Linked DNA regions of Homo sapiens. The protein of the gene in region 2 interacts with the protein of the main gene of each other region in a pairwise test. Each region holds a gene or a part of one and is shown on either strand. Other genes may lie near its edges. The genes, in order: PTPN9, RTN3, NDRG4 and CDIPT.

The links.
Region 1: the proteins of RTN3 (region 2) and PTPN9 interact in binary tests that used the Homo sapiens proteins (3 or more experiments, as listed by UniProt).
Region 3: the proteins of RTN3 (region 2) and NDRG4 interact in binary tests that used the Homo sapiens proteins (3 or more experiments, as listed by UniProt).
Region 4: the proteins of RTN3 (region 2) and CDIPT interact in binary tests that used the Homo sapiens proteins (3 or more experiments, as listed by UniProt).

What each region holds. Positions count from the first base shown.
Region 1 is NC_000015.10:75,569,309-75,576,340, reverse strand, and holds part of PTPN9 (tyrosine-protein phosphatase non-receptor type 9), read left to right. Parts: intron 1-7,032. UniProt on the Homo sapiens protein: Protein-tyrosine phosphatase that could participate in the transfer of hydrophobic ligands or in functions of the Golgi apparatus.
Region 2 is NC_000011.10:63,677,102-63,684,517, reverse strand, and holds the start of RTN3 (reticulon-3), read right to left. Parts: upstream 3,019-7,416; 5' UTR 2,882-3,018; coding exon 2,740-2,881; intron 1-2,739. UniProt on the Homo sapiens protein: May be involved in membrane trafficking in the early secretory pathway. Inhibits BACE1 activity and amyloid precursor protein processing. May induce caspase-8 cascade and apoptosis.
Region 3 is NC_000016.10:58,510,137-58,514,145, reverse strand, and holds the end of NDRG4 (protein NDRG4), read right to left. Parts: intron 3,502-4,009; coding exon 3,463-3,501; intron 2,725-3,462; coding exon 2,570-2,724; 3' UTR 527-2,569; downstream 1-526. UniProt on the Homo sapiens protein: Contributes to the maintenance of intracerebral BDNF levels within the normal range, which is necessary for the preservation of spatial learning and the resistance to neuronal cell death caused by ischemic stress.
Region 4 is NC_000016.10:29,860,209-29,867,233, reverse strand, and holds the start of CDIPT (CDP-diacylglycerol--inositol 3-phosphatidyltransferase), read left to right. Parts: upstream 1-4,007; 5' UTR 4,008-4,376; coding exon 4,377-4,419; intron 4,420-4,513; coding exon 4,514-4,648; intron 4,649-5,974; coding exon 5,975-6,128; intron 6,129-6,571; coding exon 6,572-6,653; intron 6,654-7,025. UniProt on the Homo sapiens protein: Catalyzes the biosynthesis of phosphatidylinositol (PtdIns) as well as PtdIns:inositol exchange reaction. May thus act to reduce an excessive cellular PtdIns content.

The DNA.
Region 1 (7,032 bases), on a different chromosome or scaffold from region 2:
CTAGTCTCATCATACTCCTGGCCTCAGGTGATCCACCCGCCTTGGCCTCCCAAAGTGTTGGGATCACAGGTGTGAGCCACTGCACACAGCCAGAAGTACCCTTTTGTTTTTTAACTGAGTCTTGCTCTGTTGCCAGGCTGAAGTGTAGCGTTGTGATCTCGGCTCACTGCAAACTCTGCCTCCCTGATTCAAGCGATTCTCCTGCCTCAGCCTCCCAAGTAGCTGTGACTTCAGGCGTGCGTGCCACCATGCCCAGCTAAGTTTTGTATTTTTACTAGAGACGGGGTTTCACCATGTTGGAGGATGGTCTCGATTTCTTGACCTCGTGATCCACCCGCCTTGGCCTCCCAAAATGCTGGGATTACAGGCCTGGGCCGCTGTGCCCAGCCAAGAGTACTCTTTTTTTTTTTTTTTTTTTTTTTGAGATGGAGTCTTGCTCTGTTGCCCAGGCTGGAGTGCAGTGGCGCAATCTCGGCTCACTGCAAGCTCCACCTCCTGGGTTCATGCCATTCTTCTGTCTCAGCCTCCCGAGTAGCTGGGACTACAGGCGCCCGCCACCACGCCTGGCTAATTTTTCATATTTTTAGTAGAGACGGGGTTTCCCCATGTTAGCCAGGATGGTCTCGATCTCCTGACCTCATGATCCACCCGCCTTGGCCTCCCAAAGTGCTGGGATTACAGGCGTGAACCACCGCGCCCAGCCAAGGGTACTCTTAAGATTTATTTAAAATATTAAAATTAAACAGCAGTACATAAGTGTTAGCCTTATCAAAGTGGTCCTCATGGGAACTGACACATTCACTCCGTAATGCTGCCCTATTGCTCAAACCAATTTAACATTTATTTGGAGTTGATTTAGAAGCTTGTGGCAGAATCTTTGAAATTTCTTCAGTGTAGGAAAATCCTTGTACTTTTGAGAGTCAGTTTGATTTCTGTAAATAGCAAAAAATCTTTTAGAGCCTTATTTAAAGTAGGGGATCAAATTCGGTTTACACATTTTCATGCAAAAGTGTAGTGCAGTTAGGCCCTTTTTGGCCTGTGTGAACAGCCTTAAAGATATTTCTTTTCGGCCGGGCGCGGTGGCTCACGCCTGTAATCCCAGCACTTTGGGAGGCAGAGGCGGGCGGATCATGAGGTCAGGAGATCGAGACCATCCTGGCTAACACAGTGAAACCCCGCCTCTACTAAAAATACAAAAAATTAGCCGGGCGTCGTGGCGGGCGCCTGTAGTCCCAGCTACTCGGGAGGCTGAGGCAGGAGAATGGCGTGAACCCGGGAGGCGGAGCTTGCAGTGAGCCGAGATCCCGCCGACAGAGCGAGACTCCGTCTCCTCTGTCTCAAAAAAAAAAAAAAAAAAAGATATTTCTTTTCTTTCTTTCTTTTTTTTTTTTTTTTTTTGAGACAGAGTTTTGCTCTTGTTGCCCAGGCTGGAATGCAATGGCGTGATCTTGGCTCATTGCAACCTCTGCCTCCCGGGTTCGAGCAATTCTCTTGCTTCAGCCACCCTAGTAGCTGGGATTACAGGCGCCCGCCACCACACCCAGCTAAGTTTTTGTATTTTTAGTAGAGATGGGGTTTCACTACATTAGCTAGGCTGGTCTCGAACTCCTGACCTCAGGCAATTCACCCACCTCAGCCTCCCAAAGTGCTGGGATTACAGGCGTGAGCCACCGCGCCTGGCTCCTTAAAAATATTTCTGAAGCAGAATACCTCCTGAGTGGTATCTCCTTCTGTACAGTCATATGAATCAGAAACCCAGAAGTCTTGGACACTGCTGTCCCTCTGCCCTTGTGTACAATACAGTGTTAGATTTTCCTGAATATCTCTTGAATTCATTGGCTTCCTTCCACCATCACTGCCATCACCCTATTCGAAGCTACTATCCTATCCTGACAGGACTTTTGTTTCCCACCTGGTCCATCCATATTCCAGAATCCAGAAGCCAGAGTCCTGTTGAAAATCTGATTTCATCTTCCCCTCAGCCTGCCTGCCCCGCAAAGAAGCATTCATAAAACTCTTTAGTGGCTTCTGGTTGCCTTTTTTTTTTTTTTTTGTGGAGACAGGATCTCACTTTGTCACCCAGGCTGGAGTCCAGTGGTGTAATCACGGCTCATTACAGCCTCAACCTCCTGGGTTCAAGCCGTCCTCCTGCCTCAGCCTCCCAAAGCCTTAGGATTACAGGCCTTGTCATTGCTCTTGAGATCAAATTGCAACTTTTGAATGTAGGCTATATATCTAGGCCCTTGAGCAGCCTAGGCCCTAGCTAGTTCTCACACTTGTCTCTGCTCCATGCACACTGGCCTTATAGTCCTGCCTTCTTTCCTTGTTTCCTCCTGCTTACAGGGTCTTTGCAGGAGCTGCTTTCCTCCATCTGGAAACACCCCCCTTTGTTAACCTCCTCTTCATCCTTCAGCTCTCAGGTTTCACCTCCTTGGAAGGCCTTCCTTGATTTCAGTTAGATTAGATTCTAACCTAATAGGTTCTCAGAGCACCATTTACCTGTCATTCACATCACTTATCACAAGTTAACACTTATTTGTGTGATTACATGACTGCAAGCAAGCTCTATGAGGGTTGGGATTATTTTCGCTTTTGCTCCCCATCATATGCACATTGCCTAGCATAATGACTGACATAATGACTGGCACTTACGGAAATACTTGCAGAATGAATGAAGAGTAGTTGTACTCTTGATTTGTATACAGGCAGCATCATCTTCTTTCAGAGTGGCTTAAAAATAAGCACATTACATATTTTGATTTTTTTCCCCATCAAATGGCAATATATACTTTGATTTATATGCTGTGTATGCATTGATATAGTTTTTGAAAGTCATGATTACTTAGTCTCATTTTCTGTCTAGGCATGTGTTGAACGGATACAAATCCTCATTTGTAACTTTGGTGTTTCTTGTTTTTCAGCTCCTCAATAATTATAAAGCCTACAATTGGGCTACGAGGACAAATATGATGTTTTTGCTTTTAAGGAGCTTATATGAATAACAATCGTAACAGTATCTTTTCTAAACTCCTGCTTTCAGTCAGGCTCTGTGGTGGGCATTTCACATGCAATTAATCGTCCCTCCCAAGATTGGAATTACTACCCTCACTTTGCAAATAAGAAAACTCAGACTGAGAGAAGGAAATTGCCCAAGGTCACATAGTTAACAAGTGATGTAGCCATGATTTCCACCCAGGTCTAGGTTTTCTGCCTTCACTGCCAGTGTTTCCTCTTTTACACTACATTACTTCCCATGAAGCCATTAGCCAATTTACTTAGGTGCCTAAGTGGGTATAAAATAGCTAATTTTGTGGGTTTTGGTATTGATATATGTGTTTGGTTTTGTTAATGCTTCTTAAAATATAGTTTGAAAAGTACAGATGAAAAGATACAGAAAACCTTTACTCAGCTGTGTATTGCCAGAGGAAACATACTGTATACTCTGTGCAAGAAATTATGATGAAATTACTATAGGAAAAAAATTTGTTCCTTAAAACAGAGTTGTCAACTCTCCATTTCAAGGTGTGGTCACAACTACAATAAAATTTTATTTTCTTTATATCTTCTTGTTCTTTTGCACAAGAAGGCTTGTGAAAGCCTTTCTTTTTCTTTCTTTCTTTTTTTCTTTTTTTTTGAGACAGAGTCTCGCTCTGTCGCCCAGGCTGGAGCGCAGTCTCAGCCCACTGCAACCTCCGCCTTCTGGGTTCAAGCGATTCTCCTGTCTCAGCCTCTCGAGTAGCTGGGACTACAGGCATGCACCATCACACCCGACTAATTTTTGTATTTTCTTTTTAGTAGAGATGGGGTTTCACCATGTTGGCTAGTCTGGTCTCCAACTCCTGATCTCAAGTGATCAGCCTGCCTTGGCCTCCCCAAGTGCTCGGATTACAGGCATGAGCCACCATGCCTGGCCGTAAAAGCCTTTCTTAATGGGCTGGCAGTTTGGCAGTGTGAAGGACAATTTCTACATATAAGTATTAATCTTCATTGTCATTATGTTATTGTGTTTTGAGACGGAGTCTTGCTTTGTTGCCCAGGCTGTGGGCAGTGGCACGATCTCAGCTCACTGCAACCTTTGCCTCCTGGGTTCAAGCGATTCTCATGCCTTGGCCTCCCGAGTAGCTGGGATTACAGGCACCTGCCACCACGCCTGGCTTATTTTTGTATTTTTAGTAGAGATGGGATTTCACCATGTTGCCCATGCTGGTCTTGAACTCTTGACCTTAGGTAATCCACGTGCCTCAGCAGCCCAAAGTGCTGGGATTACAGGTGTGAGCCATCTCACCCTGCCAAGACTCTTAACTAGAACTCTCACTAGATTAAAATTCTGTATAATTATAGCTGTTCAGGGTATTTTGGTTTTGCATGGATATCCCAGTGATGATTGATAGGATAATAGAGTAGTTTTCGAAAGTACTTATGTTTCTGTTAATAGTTTTATTTTTATTTTTTATTTAGTTTTTTGAGACGGAGTCTTGCTCTGTCACCAGGCTGGAGCACAATGGCACAACCTCCACCTCCTGTGTTCAAGCGATTCTCCTACCTCAGCCTCCCAAGCAGCTGGGACTGCTGGCATGCACCACCATGCCTGGCCAATTTTTATATTTTAGTAGAGATGGGGTTTCACCATGTTGGCCATGATGGTCTCTATATCCTGACCTCGTGATCCACCTGCCTCTGCCTCCCAAAGTGCTGGGATTACAAGCGTGAGCCACCACCAATTTATTTTATTTCATTTTTTAAATAATAGAGATAAGGTGTCACTATGTTGCCCAGGCTGGTCTTGAACTCCAGGGCTCAAGCAGTCTACCCACCTTGGCCTCCCAAAATGCTGGGAGTACAGGCGTGAGCCACCACGCCCAGCCTGAAAATTATTATTATTTTTGTTTCTTTTTTTATTTTAATTTTATGTTTTTTCTTTTTTTGAAAATTCTTAAAGTTTATGTTATTTAGACCTTACAATGTTGTGAGGATTAATAAGGAGATGCATGTAGAGCACTTAGCCCAATGCTTATATAATAAGTAGTCAGAAAAGTTAGCCATTATTATGATATTCATCATTGTTTTTTGTTTTTTTCTTTTTGAGACAGTCTTGTTCTGTCACCTAGACTAGAGTGCAGTGGCATGATCTCGGCTCACTGCAACCGCCGCCTCCCGGGTTCAAGCAATTCTCCTGCCTCAGCCTCCCTAGTAGCTGGGATTACAGGTGCCCGCCACCATACCTGGCTAATTTTTGTATTTTTAGTAGAGACGGGGTTTCGCCATGTTGGCCAGGCTGGTCTCAAACTCCTGACCTCAGGTGATCAACCTGCCTTGGTCTCCCAGAGTGCTGGGATTACAGGCATGAGCTACCGTGCCCGTCCTCATCGTTTTTGAATAGCGAAAAATTTTAGAACCATGTTAGCTTAAGCCAATTACAAGGGGAAAAAATATTCATATCCACCCTGGGGACCATCACCTAGTACAGGTTCTTATGAATTCCAGAAAATTATTATCTTGCATTTTTATAGTGTAGTTTTTAAAAGCCTATTCTAATTGTATGGTGTGGTTTTTGCTTTTTTTTTTGGAGACAGGATCTTACTCTGTCACCCAGGCTGGAATGCAGTGGCATGATCATAACTCATTGCAGCCTCGACCTCCCAGCCTCCCAGGATCAAGTGATCCTTCCACCTCGCCTCCCGGGTTCCTGGGACTACAGGCATGCTACCACACATGACTAATTTGTTATATTTTTTGTAGAGGGGGGTTTTACCATGTTGCCCAGGCTGGTCACGAACTCCTAAGCTCAAGCAATCCTCCTGCCTCGGCCTCCCAAAGTGTTGGGATTACAGGCATGAGCCACTGTGCCCAGTCTGGTTTGGATTTTTGTAATGGAATCTTTTAAAGCTAAAAATTTAACTGCTTTAGCGTGGACTTCAGAGATCTTTGGCATTTTTCCCAAAGGCAAGGGTTTTGTCCCATTTCTTGCGGCCAAGAACTTCCCTTTTCCCACAGTCTTACATGTCCTGTGCTAAATGTCATCTGTCTCCCTGGAAGTTACCATACGTCAAGGACCAAATGATTTATGATGTTAAATTGAGGTCTTCTACAGAGACAAAGAAGGAAGGAAAGGTGAAGAACTCTTATTATTTTCATTATTGCTGATAGTTTATGATACTGTAAGTAACAATTAGGTAAAACCTCATTTGGATGTGAGAATTTTGCTGTATTAAAAATTTCTGGTTGGGTGTGGTGTGGCTCATGCCTGTAATCCCAGCACTTTGGGAGGCCGAGGCGGGTGGATCACAAGGTCAAGAGATCAAGACCATCCTGGCCAACATGATGAAATCCCGTCTCTAGTAAAGATACAAAAATTAGCTGGGAGTGGTGGCGCTCACCTGTAGTCCCAGCTACTCGGGAGGCTGAGGCAGGAGAATTGCTTGAACCGGGAGGCAGGGGTTGCTGTGAGCTGAGATCGCGCCACTGCCCTCCAGCCTGGTGACAAAGCGAGAATCCATCTCAAAAAAAAAATTCTGAGCACAAGGGTCTTGGACTTTAGTTTTGTGAATATTAAGTGGCCTGGAGGTTTTCTCTAAGGAACCCAACCTAGTACTTATGAATGAATTGAAAAGACCCTCCTTTAGAAAGGAGCTGAACTGTTTTTTTTTTTTTTTTTTTGAGATGGAGTTTCACTCTTGTCACTATCTCCGCTCACTGCAACCTCCGCCTCCTGGGTTCAAGCGATTTTCCAGCCTCAGCCTCCCAAGTAGCTGGGATTACAGGTGCCCGCCACCACGCCCAGCTAATTTTTGTATTTTTTGTAGAGATGGGGTTTCAGCTTATTGGCCAGGCTGCTCTTGAACTCCTGACCTCAGGTGATCAGCCCGCCTCGGCCTCTCAAAGTGCTGGGATTACAGGCGTGAGCCACCATGCCTGGCCAGGAGCTAAACTGTTTTAAAGAGGTAAAAGTTAAGACTCATTGTGAGTATATTTTAGTTTCATTTTCTGACTTTTATGCCTTTATTGTCTTGGAAAAGACATAGTAATTTTGGA
Region 2 (7,416 bases):
AGTTTGAGACCAGCCTGGCCAACATGGCAAAACCCCATCTCTACCAAAGATATAAAAATTAACCAGGTGTGGGCCGTGTGTGGTGGCTCATGCCTGTATTCCCAGCATTTTGGGAGGCCGAGGTGGGCGGATCACGAGGTCAGGAGATCAAGACCATCCTGGCTAACACTGTGAAACCCTGTTTCTACTAAAAATACAAAAAATTAGCCGGGCATGGTGGTGGGCACCTGTAGTCCCAGCTACTGGGAAGCTGAGGCAGGAGAATGGCATGAACCTGGGAGATGGAGGTTGCAGTGAGCTGAGATCGCACCACTGCACTCCAGCCTGGGCGACAAAGCGAGACTCCGTCTCAAAAAAAAAACCAAAAAAAAAAAAAAAAAAAAAAAAACCAAAAGAAAATTAACCACGCGTGGTGGCACACGCCTGTAATTCCAGCTACTCGGGTGGCTGAAGCATGAGAATCATTTGAACCCCGGAGATGGAGGTTGCAGTGAGCCAAGATGGCTCCACTGCACTCCAGTCTGTGACAGAGCAAGACCTTGTCTAAAAAAAAAAAAAAAAAAAAAAAAAAAAAGAAAGAAAAGAAAAGAGAAAGAAATAACGAGTGGAAACCGCGGCATTTAATATTATTCGGAAAATGTAATGCAAACTCATGTACTTGGAACAGCACTTCACGATATAATTCTACTACTTTCGACAAAACACATAATTTCAGCACCTTTTCCACTATTATAAAGAGAAGTGCAAAAAATACACAATAAATAGATAAAAATTGTGACAAGGGTAGATGACATAAAAAAAGGTAAGCCAAACAGAAATATGTTATGTCATTAAATTCGTATTGCCAATTTAGGTGCCAATTAGGTTGTGGTATGCCTGTGTGTCTGTGAACAAAATACTCTTATTTCATTGGCCTACTAGGCCAGTTCTTCCATAAGTGCATTAAAAGAATGAAAAAGTTGAATCTCAAATGATTTCACCATTTAGTTATAAACAAACTAGGACTAAATTTTCAAATCTGCTAACTAAAATGACTCTTCAACACTTAACATCTGTCTTATCTTGAGCTTACAGAGCCAAATTTCTAAAACTTAGGTCTGAATCAAAAATGAAAAATCAAGAAAACCCAAAAGGTAAGTACAAAAGGGCCTACCAAACAGTAAGCAATGACAAGTGATTAAAGCAAAAAGATCAAGTTGCTAAGTTATAAGGAAGTCGCTGTTCATCTGGACCTTAGCCCAGAACACAAAAATTTGGAGAAAAGGCTGGTGGTTTAAAGGAGACAGGGTTCTAAATTTGCTGCCTCATTCTTTTATCTGCAAAAGCTTCCTGATACTGCCTGTTTCTACTGAAATGGCCATAACCACACTGAAAAAATCCAACAGGGCTCCAAAGCTCTCAGACAGGTGAAAATTCACTGCTAGAAAAACACGTAGAGAATAATACATTTAAGGTTAAGATCAGAAATTTTTTCTTTAGAACCCAAGATTCTGCCAAAGGAGACAACGAAGCATTAAAAAAAAATGATCAAAATCCTTTAACATAACTAAATAGAGAGCAAAATTATCTCTACTCTCCCGAATTTACGGCCCTGCCTTTGACAAAAGGCATTTTTTTTCCCTTCAAAGACTCCGTTCCTTTGAGAACTACCACCTGCCCATGGTGGTTTTTTTTTCCCCCCTTAAGAAGGCATCTGCACTGCAGATTTCTGCATAAGGGGAGCTTGCCAGGCAGCTCTTACCAGCAGGCAGACGCGTATACAATGCAAACTAAAGGAGGTCTGCAGCTTCGTTCTTAGTCTTTCACAGAGATGGGAGAAGGGGACTCAACCAGCCCTTGCTTTGTCTGAATGTTCTCCCCCTCCCCCTTTCTGCAATAAACACCCCCCTTTGTTATACTTCGATCAATAGTAGCCCACAGAAAACATGAAATCAAAACATGTTGATAGCTTAGCATGACTCTATTTTCTAGAATATAAGCGACTGATTGCGTGTCCCCACCCCCACGCAGCGCCAGGGAAGAGCAGGCTGTTGCAGATGCAGCCACGGATCCATCTTGGACCATTAGCAGCTCCCTCCCAAATCTTCCCTGAGCTATTCTCATCACGCCTCCTTCTACCTCGGAGCCTCAGAAAAATCCGGCATTCATGGAGTCTAGCCGAAAACAGTAAAAACAAAACAAACAAACAAAAAAAACAGGCTACAATGCTTCCATTAAACTTCCTCATCCTTCCCATGGGCAGCCAAAAATATTTTGGAGGACTATCATGAATGCTTGATTATGTCAACACCTGTCTGCAAACCTGCAATGCAACCCTTTCACCACCATCCCCTCAAAAATAGTAACAAATTGTTTCTCCCACCACCCACCTGCCCGTATCCTTTCAATCTCTCTAATCCTCACTAAATCACCCAGGTTCACCATATGCATCGAGCAACTCTCCATTTTATCCCACGAGCTGGTATTTTTCCCCACCTGCCCAGTCTTGGCGTTAACGCCCACTGGACTATCTCCCCGCCCCCAACCTGTTTTCCTCACACCCCGCTATTTCCTCACCGCCTGCACAACCTTACGTTCCCCTTCCCCTTTGCCCATTTTCCAAACGCTCGTCCCCGGGGGGCTGAAGCCGTCAGTAGTCGAGGGTAATTCGTCCTCCTCCCGCCTCGCCTCCTAATCCCCCCAGCCCCCAGGCTCCCGCTCGCCCTCTTTCCCAGGGCGGGGGCTCCCCGCGCGCCTTACCCGCACAGGAGGAGCTGCAGCTCTTCGTCCCCAGGGCGGGGCAGGCTCCTGGGCTCCCGCCGCCGCCGGGCGCGGACGGCTCGGCTCCGAAGGACGACGAGGAGATGGAATGGGACTGAGTGGCCGCCGACGGCTCCGCCATGGCTACGCGAGCGAGGGTGGGAGAAGGGTGAAAAGAGATACGGGGCGGGAGAGAGGGAGGGGAAATAGAATAATCCGGCAACTGGCTCGCTCAAGTCCCTTTACTCCGCCTGCTCCGAGGACAGACTCCGACAGACTGACTGACTCAGCCGAGCGCAGCTAGAGGGCGGGAGCGCGAGCGCGCATGCGCACAAAGGGCCCCAAGCGGGTGCCAAAGCGCGCAGCGGCGCAGGGCGCAGGCGCAAGAACCGCTCCTCTGCGCTCTTGCAGGGAAGGAGGGGCAAAGCCGGCCTCACGCGGCGCCTCGCGCGCCGAGGGTTGGGGAGCGTCCCTTGGGGACCAGACGCAAAAGGCGTATCCAAGCCCCAATCCCCGCCCACGACTGCGGCTAATCGTGGAGCTGCGGGATAGTATTCCCTCCTGCCTCTTTATGTGAATGTTTTAGGGTCGGCAGATTATGTATTTTAACGGTAGAAATGTCTTTGGGCTTCCATTATGGAAACTCTCTTTCCCGTACATTCCAGAGCCTATATCTTTTGTTTGATGCATTCCCACCTGTGACTCCAATAAAAACTGAAAACCAGAGTGTAGAGTAGGCCCACTCTGCAAGGTGCTTTGTGAATCTCACTGGCTGTGTCGTAATATCTCCTCACCGAGAGGCAGAGATGGCACGGCCCCCCATTTGGTAGGTGGAGAAAGATGCTATACAGAATGAAAAACGATTACTCATTCCAATCACATTGCAATGCAGTCGCAGAACCTGCTTCGTATTCTTATCTCGTTACTGTTGCCAGAGAAGGGTCCACCTTGGGTCTTAAGGTTCTCTTTTCCTCCGAATAGACTGTCAGATAGAGACGACATATTTTAGAGAGGGAAAAAAAATGCTGAGCTGATGAAGAAGAGCCAGGAGATAAGAAAATGTTGGCTGTGATTATGGGGGATGATAAAATTAGATATTAAAAATTCAGAATAAGGCCGCAGTCAGTGGCAGAGGCCCGTAGTCTCTGCTACGGCAGAGAAGGGAGGATCACTTGAGCCCAGGAGTTGGAGTCCAGCCTGGGCCACACAGCGAGAACCTTCCTGCCTTAAAAAAAAAAAAAAAAGTAAAAAAAATCAGAATAAGGCACAAAATACACATAATTGAATTTTATTCATAGACTAAAAGAGGTCCTTAGCAGAACATGTATTTAAAACCAGATTTCTAGCCTATATTGGATTTTGTTCATTTTTTGCTTTTCCTGGGCTGGATTGCCAAATTCGAAGCCTTCTCCCTACATCTGGTCAAAATATTGGAAAGGTGCATAGTCTTTGTTAAAGGAGGACTGTTGGCTGGGCGCGGTGGCTCACACCTGTAATCCCAGCACTTTGGGAGGCCGAGGCAGGTGGATCATCTGATGTCAGGAGTTCAAGAACAGCCTGGCCAATGTGGTGAAACCCTGTCTCTACTAAAAATACAAAAATTAGCTGGGGGTAGTGGCGGGCGCCTGTAATCCCAACTACTCGGGAGGCTGAGGCAGGAGAATTGCTTGAACTCGGGAGGCAGAGGTTGCAGTGAGCAGAGATCTCACCATTGCACTCCAGCTTGGGTGAAAGAGCAAATCTCCGTCAAATAAAAAAAAAAAAAGGAGGACTGTATCCTGGAAATAATAAAAATCAAGGCTGTCGACTGTTACTGCTAAAGCAGCAATCGATGACCCAAAGTACAATTGCAGGATCAGCAGATCCTGTAAAGATGCAGCCTCATGAAGCGGGAGGTGGTCAGCCAAGCTGCCACTGAGGGGAAAGGCGATCTGACCAGTGGAAATCTTCTAGAACAAGCTGTGTACTACATCTGCCCTTGAGTTTTTAAGGTCAGGTAAAGCCCCAGGGGGTGGGAGGATGACTCCTGGCCTTTGCAATGCTCTGAAAAAGGCATAGAAAAATATTTCCCAAAATAACTTTGTGGCTAATACCTTACCCTGGCACTTACTGCATCAGCTGATAATGCAGCAAACTGTCTCTTGGATGGCAAAGGGAAATAATAGCAGATCGGATAACCAAGCCAGTTATCTACCCATTCTGATACGTGCATATGTTTTTTTAAAAATCGCATTATTAGGGGAGCTGTTTTCTTCTTCCTTCCTTCTTTCTTGTCTATTAAACGCTCTGCTCCTTAAAACAAAACAAACAAACAAAAATCTACATTATTAAGTGCTAGATAAGGAAATAAATGATGCTGGTAGCTAACTCTGACAGCACTTGCTACAATCTGGAGACTCCAGCTGGAAGGAAGTCCATTTTCCTAATATGTAGCAGCAGAGAAGTTAAAAAGCAAGATATGCACGTGGTCTTACTGGTCTTTTCAGACCCTTCAGACATTTTTTTTTTTGAGATGGAGTCTTGCTCTATTGCCCAGGCTGGAGTGCAGTAGTGCCATCTTGGCTCACTGCAACCTCCGCCTCCCGGGTTCAAGCAGTTCTGGTTCAGCCTCCTGAGTAGCTGGGATTACAGGCACATGCCTCCATGTCCGGCTAATTTTTGTATTTTTAGTAGAGGCGGGGTTTCACCATGTTGGCCAGGGTGGTCTTGAACTCCTGACCTCGGGTGATCCTCCTGCCTCAGTTTCCCACACCTGGGATTATAGGCGTGAGCCACTGTGCCCGGCCAGTTCTATGAATGTGTATTGATCATGTGCTGTGTGTATAACACAATTCTGGGAACTTTGAAGAGACCTCCAAAATATGTTAGTCTTGTCTTCAATGAGCTTACAAGCTAGTTAGGACAAAAAACATACTCACATAAAGTTAAATAATATAAATTAAATAGCAACTAAAAACAACCCCAAACACCATAAAACCATAGTGCTTTGATTAGATGGCAAGTAAATTAAATGAATTTAAAAGAGAGGGGCCAGGCGCAGTGGCTCACGCCTGTAATCCCAGCACTTTGGGAGGGCAAGGTAGGCGGATCACCTGAGGTCAAAAGTTTGAGACTAGTCTGGCCAACATGGAGAAACCCCATCTCTACTGAAAATACAAAATTACCCAGGCATAGTGGTGTGTACCTGTAATCCCAGCTACTCGGGAGGCTGAGGCACGAGAATCACCTGAGCCTGGGAGGCAGAGGTTGCAATGAGCCAAGATCATGCCACTGCACTCCAGCCTGGGCAACACAGTGAGACTCCACCTCAAACAAAAACAAAAACAAAAACAAAAACAACGAGGGGAAGGAATTACCATGAAGTTGTAGTGGCTTAGGGAGGTTTTTTTTTTTTTTCTGTCACCCAGGCTGGAGTGCAGTGGTGCGATCTCGGCTCACTGCAACCTCTGCCTCCCAGGTTTAAGTGATTCTCCTGCCTCAGCCTCCCGAGTAGCTGGGACTACAGGTGCGTGCCACCGTGCCTGGCTAATTTTTTGTATTTTTAGTAGAGACGGGGTTTCACTGTGTTAGCCAGGATGGTCTCGATGTCCTGACCTCGTGATCTGCCTGCCTCGGCCTCCCAAAGTGCTGGGATTACAGGCGTGAGCCACTGCGCCCAGCCAGGAGGTTTTGTGAAGATGCTCAAAGTTAGATAGGTGTTTGGAATTGTAAGGAAGTCATTAAAAGCAGAAAAGGATGGTATGAAGCAAATACAGGGGTTGCTTTTGTGAATGTATACAAAAAAAGTACTCTTCTGGGCAGATGAATCACAAAAAAGAACCTCTTTCTCCCAGCCCCACCCATGATACAGTTCCATGCTGATTTGGCTAGCAGAACCTCACCTAGATTTGATCCCCTCTTGCCCCTTGTCTCCACAAGCTGCCTTGGTGTAACACTCAGACTGTACAGCCATATGTGGTGGCTAAAGGCTCAGACGTGAGCGTGTATAAGGTGTCTTGGGTGTTGGTTAGACCAAATTGGCTGGAGCTGAAGGCTTGAATTAGGACAGGAGGGAAGATATAGGGATAACATCTAAAATGAGGAAGATATGTTGGGGCCAGTTTTTGGAGAAGCAGTAGTATTGAACCAAAGAACTGAGGCTTTGTCTTAAGAATAATGGGGATTGAGTGGAAGTTTTTGGTGGGAAATGGCTCAGCTGGGATTTTTTTTTTCCTTTTTTTTGTCCAAGATGGGATTTTTTTTTTTTTTGAGATGGAGTCTCACTCTGTCACCCAGGCTGGAGTGCAGTGGCATGATCTCAGCTGACTGCACCCTCCACCTCCTGGGTTCAAGTGATTCTTCTGCCTCAGCTTCCCGAGTAGCTGGGACTACAGGCCCATGCCACCATGCCTGGCTAATTTTTATATTTTTAGTAGAGACGAGGTTTCACCATGTTGGCTAGGCTGGTCTTGTACTCCTGACCTCGTGATCTGCCTGCCTCAGCCTCCCAAAGTCCTGGGATTACAGGCGTGAGCCACCGCGCCCGGCCCAAGATGGAATTTTTAAAGTGCTCCCTGGCTGTCATGGTGGCTCACCTCTGTAATCCCTACACTTTGAGAGGCCAAGGCAGGAGGATGGCTTGGGCCCAAGAGTTCAAGACCAGCCTGGACAATATAGCGAGACCTCATCTTGAAAAAT
Region 3 (4,009 bases), on a different chromosome or scaffold from region 2:
AGATTGCAGAGTATAATCATTAACCCTGTCAGACATGATCGTATGTTTAGGAGAAGGCAAAGAGTAGGTCATTTATCTTTGAAGGAATGTAGTGACTCAGGCAAGAGATTTGGAGGGCAGGGGTGTTTTGTTTTGTCTTTAAGGCATTTTTTTCTGGAGAGCTGTATTTTGTTTTTTTGTTTTATTTTGAGGCAGAGTCTTGCTCTGTCATCCAGGCTGGAGTGCAGTGGCACGATCTCCACTCACTACCACCTCTGCCTCCTAGGTTCAAGCGATTCTCCTGCCTCAGCCTCCCGAGTAGCTGGTATTACAGGCACGCGCCACCATGCTCAGCTAATTTTTGTATTTTTAGTAGAGACGGGGTTTCACCATGTTGCCCAGGCTGGTCTCGAACTGCTGGCCTCAAGTGATCTGCCCGCCTCAGCCTCCCAAAGTGCTGAGATTACAGGCTTGAGCCACCGTGCCTGGCTGAGGAGAGCTGTATTTTGTCACAGAGTCAGGGGAGAAATGAGCACATAAGCAGAAATGAGCACATAAGGCTTTTAATGTTTGTGACATTCTCATCTCACCGGTAAAATAATGTGACGTGTACTGGAAATAGAAAGATGGGTGGAGACCATCCTCTCCTAGCACCCTCAACCCAAAACCCAAGCAGCACCAGCAGCCCCTGCCCAAACATTCTGTTTCTCCAAAAGCCTCCCATGATGGGCATGGCATCACCACACTGGAATTCTTCTTAGGTTCTTTATTAGTTTTTCAGCACAGTTAACTCTTTCTACGTTGACTAGAGTTTTGTTTTACATTTTATCATCTCATGACAGCAGCCACCAGAATACACAAAATTAGGCTCTTTACTTTGTGCGGAGAAGAAAATAATAAACATTAAAAGTTCACCTTGACCAAAGAGACAACCTCCAGAAGAACACCACACATGGGAGGACCCGATGTACACACACACACACACACACACACACACATATAATGTATAGATATTTATAGATACATCTGGAAACAGCAAAAAACAAAATTCCAAGATTTGCAGTGTTATCTACAGTAAGAGGGATGAATTCTACCAGCTTTCAAACAGTCACATTCAGTATTCAGAAGAAGCACATGAGGGGGTAGAACTGGGCAGAAACTAACACGCCACCAGGCTAGTCATGGCTTAAGATTATAGAAGGGGGGTGATGTGTGTAGAGGAAATACGCATATAGGTGTCCTCTCAGCCTCAGAACACCCGCCACAACCCTTCCCCCGTCCACAGCCCTGCATGTTTTCACTGCTCTCTCCCGTTTTGGGGTTTGTGATTATTGATTTAGGGTCTGAGACAAATGGCTCTGGTTTCTGGGCCGCAAGATGCTATGGGGTAAGGTGAGTGGATGGAAAGCATACAACGCAGTCCTGGGCTTCAGGGGACAGCAGGAGGCTGGGGTGTAGGGGAAGCCTTTCTCTTCTACCTGACCCTTGTTCATGTCCAGAACCTTCAGCCCCCAGTAAGCCCCAGCCCAGGCGGCTATGGGGTGTGGGACTGTAGAAGCCTCGCTGCCTTGGGCCAGTTGACTAAATAAACTCTCTCTTCCTTAGTGATGCGTCCGGGACACACTGGCACAGCCTGGCCAGAGCTCTGCCTGAAACACCACACTGCTACTGATGGCGTTGCCCTCTGGGGAACCTGGGGGCAAAAAAGGGGTCTCCAGGAACTCAGCTACCCCTGCCTCTGGCCACCTGCGGGCTCCCAAAGGCAGTCACCACGAAGTTCTCAGGGGCACACACACCACACATGGGCTCTCTCCTCCTTCTCCCTCACCCCCAGTCAGGTCACTGTGGGGACAGAGGACCAGGCAACTTCTGCCTCGGGGAGGCCTTGGCTCAGAATTGGGACAGGGCCAGGAGGTGGCAGAGTGTGGGCTGGAAGGGACAGTCTGTGGGGTTCCTGCCCTGACGGTTCTCCATGTTCTGTCTTCCTTGGGCAGAGAAACCCCTTGACGCCCCTGCCTGCGTGGCCCTACAGCACCAGCTGGGCCCAGAGAGCACCAGGAAAGTGGCTGCCTGGTCCGAGCGCCCCCTTGTGGCTGTTGTCCAGATGATTGTCACATGTGCTATGAGACAGAAACAGGTGTGCTTGGTGGAGGGTGGGGGAAGGGGTCTCCCAGGGCTCCCACGCCAGTGCCTGAGCTGGCCCCGCACCCCTGTGGCCCAGCACCCACCCTCTCGAAGCCTCTCTCATCTCCAAACATGCCTGCCCAAGGGCTCACCCAGGAATGGCCTGGATCCGTAGCGAATCTCCCTCCCTATGGCCCTGCCCTTCTGTGCCTGGGCCGCCGGGAGTGGGATGAGAGGGGTCAAGTTGGCTAAGTTACCACGGAGAGTGAGATGGGATGAGGAGGACTGAGCCCCTTAAAACACCTGGAGACTGTTCTGCTGCAGCATCTAAGATCCCCTCATTTTTTTCAAACAGAACCCCATTTCCTCCCCTTTGCCCTCACAAAAATAAACTAAAGGGAACATGAGCCGGCGCAAGGATGGCGGTGGGGCCTCGACGTGGGCGTCGTCAGCGGGATCAAGGGCTTCAACAGGACACCTCCATGGTGTGGTTGACCTGGCCCAGCCCCTCGCTGCTCTCTGAGTGGGTGCAGGCCTGTGGGCGGCTGCCATCCACCGAGCTGGCACTGGTGAGGGATGCAGTGCGGGAGCGTGCCAGGCGGGTCATGCTGGCTGAGGGCACTGTGGACAGAGACAGGATGGGCCTGAGGACTGGCGGGCAGGGCCAGGTGCCTCTGGTGGGAAAAGTAGGCTGCAAGCAAAGCGGCCAGCGAACCGTTCCTCGAAGGCACAAAGGGCTCCTCCTGAGTCAGGAGGCTGGCGACAGCTGTCGGGCTGGGGGCATGCAGGGCCGGCGACAGTGAGTGGGCCTAGGGGGCTGCGGCCAGCAGCTGACCAGGCAGCCCTGAGCTGGTGCAGGGAGGTGCTGGGTTTCCAGCCGTGCCTCCCTCAAGAGGATGCCAGTGGAGAAGTAGGACTGTTTCTGTAAAGGAGGACGCGGAGCGGTGGTCGCATACTGCCCTCAATTCAGACTGTGCCCTAATTCCCTAATTCAGAGTTTCACAAGCAAGACTTGCGGGCAGCAAACTCTACCCTCCGGAACTCTCCTGGCCACCTATGTGGCTCAGGCAGGGCCAGGCCTGGGCTCTACCTCTAAGGAGGGTCTGTTTCCTATCCCCAGAGCTCTGGAAGCCACGCAGCTCATGACAACCTAGAAGCAAGACTGCTCTGCAACCCAGCCAACCTAGAGGCCAAGCCTGCAGAAAAGCAAGAATCTGTGGGGTTTCTGAGTTGAACAGGACACAAGAAGGTTCCAAACCACAGCAAGATGCGGCCTGGCTGCAGCACACTGCGCAGAGGAAGGAGCGGGGGAGGAGGAGGCTGGGCGTCCATGCATCAGGGGAAGGGCCGTGGGGCTACCTGCTCCTCCACTCAGCCTTCGGTCCTTCAAGTACGCAACTAAGAGAGAAGACAGAGCCGGAGAGGGGGCGGGGATGGGGGAGACACAACACAGTGAAGAGCGTGGTCCGCTGAGTCAAGGGCATTGAGATGAGCCAGAGAGATGGGACAAAGGACAGGCACAGAGAGGCTGGGGGCAGGGCCAGAGGCTTCTGGAAGCCCACTCCTGCCTGCCCACCCAGCAGTGGCCCCCAGAAGGATCTCTGGCCCAAGGAAGCCCTGACAGGTGGGGTGCTTATCCCCTCACCATTCTCCTAGGCCTCAGTCTCCTGCATACAGAATGGGGGAGGCCTGCCCGCTCTGTGCCCTTCCCAGCTTGGGGCTGCCTGGTGGAGTTTCTCCCCAGGACCCTGAGAACGCGTCTCAGCGCCTGACAATGTTCTTCCGTTCACCTCGCAAATGCTTGCTGTGCCCTGATTCCAGACTCTGTGCTCCTGCGGAGCCTCCCTGTGGGCCCTAGGGCTCTGCCCTGCTCCAGAGAGCATTCTATTCCTGGGTGTCCTCCCCA
Region 4 (7,025 bases), on a different chromosome or scaffold from region 2:
ACTGCAACCTCCAACTCCTGGGTTCAAGCGATTCTCCTGCCTCAGCCTCCTGAGTAGCTGGGATTAGAGGTGCATACCACCAACCCAGCTAATTTTTGTATTTTTAGTAGAGACAGGGTTTCCCCATGTTGGCCAGGCTGGTCTCAAACTCCTGACCTCAGGTGATCTGCCCGCCTGGGCCTCCCAAAGTGCTGAGATTACAGGTGTGAGCCACCGCGCCTGACCTAACGTTTGTATTTTTAGTTAAGACAAGGTTTCACTATGTTGGCCAGGCTGATCTTGAACTCCTGACCTCATGATCCACCCGCCTTGGCCTCCCAAAGTGCTGGGATTACAGGTATGAGCCACCGCACCCAGCTCCTCCTACTATTTCTTTCTTTCTTTTCTTTTTTTTAAATTTTTCTTTTTGAGACAGGGTCTTGCACTGTCACTCAGGCTGGAATGCGGTGGCATGAACATGGTTCACTGCAGCCTCAACCTCCTAGGCTCAAGTGATCCTCTGGCCTCCGCCTCTCAAGTAGCTGAGACCACAGGTTCGTGCCACCACACCTGGCTAATTTTTTTAACTTTTTATAGAGATGGGGTCTCTCTATGTTGCCCAGGCTATTCTTGAACTCCTGGGCTCAAGCGATCCTCCCACCTCCCAAGTAACTGGGATCACAGGCACATGCCATCATGCCTGGGGTATCACCATGTTGCCCAGGCTGGTCTCAAACTCCTGGACGCAAGCGATCCTCCTGCTTCAGCTTCCCAAAGTGCTGGGATTACAGGCATAAGCGACCACACCCAGCCAGGAAAGTGTGTAAGGCTCTAAACAAGGCACATAAAGTCTCTTGAGTCCCCTCTTACCTTGCCTGTAGACTCCAGCTGCTAAACTGCTTCTCCCTGCCCTAAATACACACAGATGCTCACACTGGCTCTGCGAAGACTGCTCTTTGCCTTTGTTCATGCAACCCCAACTGCTTGAAAGACTCCTACTAACCTCTTTTTTTTTTAACCTGGAAAATTATTTCTTTTTTTTTTTGAGATGGTCTCACTGTCGCCCAGGCTGGAGTGCAGTGGTATGATCTCAGCTCACTGCAACCTCTGTCACCATGTTGACCAGGCTGGTCTCAAACTCCTGCCCTGAAGTGATCAGCCCACCTCAGCCTCCCAAAAATGCTGGGATTACAGGTGTGAGCCACTGCACCTGGTGGAAAATTATTTCTTTAGGTGCTACCTCCTTCAAGAAGCTCCAAAGCCTGTAATCCCAACACTATGGGAGGCCAAGGAGGGCGGATCATGAGGTCAGGAGATCAAGACCATCCTGGCTAACACGGTGAAACCCCGTCTCTACTAAAAATACAAAAAAATTAGTCGGGTGTGGTGGCGGGTGCCTGTAGTCCCAGCTACTTGGGAGGCTGAGGCAGGAGAATGGCGTGAACCCAGGAGGTGGAGCTTGCAGTGAGCTGAGATCACACCACTGCACTCCAGCCTGGGCAACAGAGCAAGACTCCGTCTCAAAAAAAAAAAGAAGAAGCTCCATGGCTCCTGTCCTTCCTGTCCAATTGAAGCTGGGATAAGAGTACTATCCCACTGTGTCCATTTCTATTATGGAAACTTATCCAGACTGTATTATAATTGGCCATTTCCTTGTCTGTCCCCACACTGAACTGTGAACTCTTCAAGGGCTGAGACTGTACCATTCATTTCAGTGTCCCAAGCTCCTAAGACAGGGACCAACATATAGTGCAAACTCAAAAGGTTTGGTTAATATCGAATAGCCTTGGCAGCCATGGACCCTGCATGTACCTTTTCACCAGGAGTTGGCAGGAGGTATGCCTTGCTGCAGGTACGGTTTCTGTCCGAGCAGGAGATGGTGGAAGAGAGGGGAGAGGGCTGAGAATTCAGAATTTGAGGATCAGGGCAGAATAGAATGGAAGTGCACGGTTCAAAAATTCCCCCACCCTGCTGGGATATTGTGAAACCCTCACTCTCTCCCCTCCAGGTTCCTCACCTCTCTCCCAGGACAAAGAGCATCTCCCTTGAAGCCTCACTCACCAGGTGTCTGTGCCTCAGGTCTTGGTGAAGAATGCTGGAAGTAGAGGACCTAGTCAGAGAAAGGACTATCCCCGTGGCCAGAAGAGATGCGGCCAGGGCAGACGGGGCTAAGGGGATTCTCGGCCAGCAGTGAGGAGTGGGTACTGGGTTAGCGGGTGAGAGGGGCATTTCACAGGTCCTAGGGCTGGCTGTGAGATGGATGAGATGGGCACAGACTCCTGGAGAGTTCAGCTAGGGGTGGGAGGGGTCAGGGACTGTAACCAGGCATAGTGGGGGCAGCGGTTCTCTAGACACGGTGGTCCTGAGGCAGGGGGTTACCGCGTTTGGATATCTGAGTCGCTTGGTCTTGTGACTGCTTTTTTTTGATGGGCACAGGGTTCAAGTGGCAGCAAGCAGTGCACAAAGCCTCCTCCATGAGTTCTGCACTGATCTGGGACAGGTATTCCTCAGAACGAGATAACGAAGCCTGGGAAAGGAAAAGCCGGAGGGGTTCAGCCTGGGAGCTCCCACATGGGAGTGCTGGCTGTGGGAGTTCCCAGGCTGGGGCCTGTGGGTCCAAGGAGCTTGCTCCTGAAGGACTGGGCCTTGAGATTTAGCTAGAAAGCTCTGGACCTGGGGGAGGGGGGTTTGGTGGGGGTTTAGAGTCAGGGCCTAGTGCTGAGAGCTATGAGTCGGGGCTTCAGGACTCAGGGTTGAGGCTAGAGTCTCAGGGCCCGTGGCTCAGACCTGGCACGGGGTGCCTCTGCCTGGGAGGCTTTCACTTCATTACATTCCCACCTCTAGGGTTCCCTGCAGTGCTCACCGGACCTCCTCTCAAGGAGGGTGCAGCTTGAGATGGCCAGCTGCTCTTCTTCTCCCCCTCATTCCCCATCGGAGTGGACGCCATCCCCCTGGGAACAGTCGAAGCCTGAGTTGACCTGAGAAACCAGCCCGCTTTCCCCCAGAACCCAGTCCACCACCATTCCCCGGGCCCAGGTTTAAACAAGGCCTTTAGAGGAAACATCCCGCTGCCTCATTCCCTCTCACAAGAAAAAATAATAATAATAATAAAGGTTGCTTTATATCTTCGGGAGTGAGAGGGAACTCCCGCAACCCCCTACCCCTCACCCCTTCGCCTGGTGGGCCTCTCCTTCCTTCTTCCCTCCCAAGCACCTTCCCAAGCCGAGGCAGCCGACTTGACGCCCCAGACCTGGCAGATGGGTGGAAACCTTGGGCTACTCGGCAAAAGGAGAGACGTGGAGGCCTAAGGACCTCTGGTATAGGTCGTGGGGGATGGAGAATGGGAGATGGGGAGGAAGGCTGGAAAAGGGGGAGCCGGCTCCGTGTCGCTACCGGACGCTATAAAACCCTTGGAGTCTGCAGAGGTTCCGCAGCCTCGTTGCTAGGAGATCAGGGGTTCTAGAACTAAAGACAGAGGAATTTCCTAGCGCGCCCCGTTTGCTCCTCCAGCCTCCCCTCCGTACCCCTCCAGGTGCCTCCTTGAGGGCAGTGACCCCAAGCGCCAGACGCTTGAGAAGCTTGGGAGGATGACGTAGGGTGGAGCCTGCGACCTAATCCTCCCATCACAAGGGGCACGCGAAAAGCAACCCATCTGCAGGGCGCTCTGGAGCCTCTCTAGCCGCCTAGAGCCTGCGAGAGCAAAGGCGGCTGGAGACTTAGGGGGCGGGGAGTAAAGTGAGGACTGCACCAAATCTCCTGGCCTCTTGGGGACGCAAAGACTCAGGAGGAGGAATTTTATCGCCTTATCTTTGCCTCCAGGAAGTCATACCCTCCACAAAAGGAAAGCAGAGATTTTTATTCGGTCTTCTCTTTTACCCTTTCCTTTTCCGTTTCTAACTTTGCTTGACGTTAATGGTTCCTTCCTCCCTCTCCTCCTCTGCGCTTTGGTACGAGCCAAGGGAGAGGGGCGGAGGGAGGAAAAGGGAAAGGAAGCCGACAGGCCTTAAAGGGGCCGCAACTATTTTTTTAAGCCACTTTTTCCTCTCTCCAATTTTGCAACGACGGGCGCGGAGGAGGAGGTTCCCGGAAGCCACGCGCAGCTGGAGCAGCGGCGACCGCAGCTGGAGGCCCGGAGCGCCTGCGGGGCTGGCAGAGGCGAGGGAGGTTGCGGGTAGGAAGGGCGGACTGCGCGCGCCCCCTGCGTCCCGCGCACCTCGGGGCCGGTCCATGCTCCCGACGGCTGCGGGCTTCAGCATCTGGGGCCAGGTTGGGGCGGCGGGGTCCAGGGCGCAGGTGGTGCGGCCGATGCGCCGGGCCGGAGGCTGAGGCCGCGCTGCGGGGCTGGGACAGCACTGGCATCTCCAGAGCAGGCCCGGGGCAGCAAGGGAGGCGCCGCGATGCCAGACGAAAATATCTTCCTGTTCGTGCCCAACCTCATCGGTGAGTGCTGCCCACGGCCCCGGGCCGAACGAGAGGGCGAGGGGCCTTGGCGGGCTCCCTGATCCTGCCCTGTCTCCCCGCGTCCCGTTCCAAGGTTATGCCCGGATTGTCTTCGCCATCATTTCTTTCTACTTCATGCCCTGCTGCCCCCTCACGGCCTCCTCCTTCTACCTGCTCAGCGGCCTGCTGGACGCTTTCGATGGACACGCTGCTCGCGCTCTTAATCAAGGTGACAGACACCCCTCTCAGCCAGCCTTGGGGTTCAACAATCCCCTCCTCCCTTCCCCTGCCTCCTCGGGACCTCAGAGTCAGAGGGCTGTCATTCCCATCTCTGGAAAAAGCAGAACAGGATGGCCTGGGGCTTTTTGTTTTGTGTTTTGTTTTTTTGTTTTTGAGACAGGGTCTCGCTCTGTCACTTAGGCTGGAGTGCAGTGGCGCGATCATGGCTCACTGCAGCCCCCATCTTCTGGGCTCAAGTAATCCTCCCACCTCAGCCTCCTGACTAGCTGGGACTACAGGAGCGTGCCACCACACCCGGCTAATTTTTAAATTTTTGTAGAGACTGGGTCTTGCAGTGTCGCCCAGATTGGTCCCCAGCTCCTAGCCTCAAGCGATCCTCCTGCCTTGCTCCCAAAGTGCCGCGCCCAGCAAGAATGGACTGATTTTGTAGCAAAAGGAATTTAAGCTAGCTCTTGAGAACTCACTGCTTGTGAGAGGTGTGGATTAGCAAGACATGACATGGCGGTGGCGCTGCTGGAGGTCTCTCTGAATACAAGTCCATTCAGGCCAGGGGCGGTGGCTCACGCCTGTAATCCCAGCACTTTGGGAGGCCGAGGTGGGTGGATCACGAGTTCAGGAGTTCGAGACCAGCCTGGCCAACATGGTGAAACCCTGTCTCTACTAAAAATACAAAAATTAGCGGGCTTGGTGACGCGTGCCTGTAATCCCAGCTACTCGGGAGGCTAAGGCAGGAGAATTGCTTGAACCCGGGAGGCGGAGGTTGCAGTGAGCCAAGATTGCGCCATTGCACTCCAGCCTGGGCGACAGAGCAAGACTCTGTCTCGGAAAAAAAAAAACAAAAAACAAAAAACAGTGTATTCAACAGGTGTTTACTGGAGGCCTACTGTGTGCCCTGCATAAGCAGTTGGGGTTCCAGAAGGCATGCTTAGAGGGAGGATGGAGAGGGAAGGGTGATGGCTTCTGGAGGGTTGACTAATTTTTTAATCTGTTCTCCAGACCCAACTGTAAGGCTTCCCCTGAGGCATCAAGTCTCTATCTAGCCCTGGAGTCTTGGTTCTGGGGTTGATGAGTTGCAGACATAGCTTTCCTCTCCTCCTACCCTGTTCCCTCCACTCTCATGCCTTTCTCAGTTCATGCCATGGTGACCTTTGCCCACTGACCTCACACACAGCCTGTTTTCTAGCCTGCGTTCCTCCCCAGGCAGGCGGACACTTCCAGTCTTCGTTTACACCCTGCGTCAGAGTGATAAACCAAATATGGGCACCTGTCCTGCATCCACTGTGCCATAACAGCCCTTGCCCACCTAATCTTCCAGGAACCCGGTTTGGGGCCATGCTGGACATGCTGACGGACCGCTGCTCCACCATGTGCCTGTTGGTCAACCTGGCCCTGCTGTACCCTGGAGCCACGCTGTTCTTCCAAATCAGCATGAGTTTGGATGTGGCCAGTCACTGGCTGCACCTCCACAGGTCTGCTGCGATTCTGGGGGCCTGGGCCACTTGGAGACATTACAGTGGGGTGGGCTGAGCCTAGACGGAAGGGTGTCTGGGATGGCACTAGGCATCCTGGAAGGGCTCCTTTTTAGCTCTGCTTTGTAGAAAGACCCCAGGCAAACCTGCCTCTCTTTAAAGCTTCAGTCATGTTTACAGTTGCATTAAGCAATTCTTAGGACTCTTCTGGCTGGGTATTCTAGGATTCCATATAGGTGACAGCTTATAGGAAGGGGCATGGGAGCTTTCAAATGTGGCATTTGAATCCTGACTCTGCCCCCAAATAGGTAACTGTGGCTTTCGGCAGGATACTGGTCCTTAGCCGTGCCCAGTTTTCCATCTGTACAATAGGTGTTAACATGAGGATTGGATGCATGGTAGTGGTCATGAAACCTTGTGGGTTCCCCTGTTTTCTCCCCAAGTTCTGTGGTCCGAGGCAGTGAGAGTCACAAGATGATCGACTTGTCCGGGAATCCGGTGCTTCGGATCTACTACACCTCGAGGGTAAGCATTTCCTGCACACCCCACCCCTCAGGCTCTTGGCTGTGGGAAGCCCTGGGCTGAATCCTGGTCCTAGCCTAGGAGAAGGCGAGGGCGCAGAGCAGGGCCTGCCCAGTCACTCCAGGAGGAGGGCCCGTAAGCTGAGGCGTGGAGGAGGAGGATTGGTGGGGAAGGCCTGTGTGAATTACTCCAGGGAACAAGTGGGAATGAGGCCTGCAAAGAGAAGGGACTGAAAGCGGGAAGGGAGATAAGCCAGAGAGGTCTGCAGGGCTGGAGTGTGGACTTGATTCCAGGAACACAGGCAGCCTCTGGAAGGATTTTTAAAAAGATAATGGCTGGGCATGGTGGCTCATGCCTGTAATCCCAGCGCTTTGG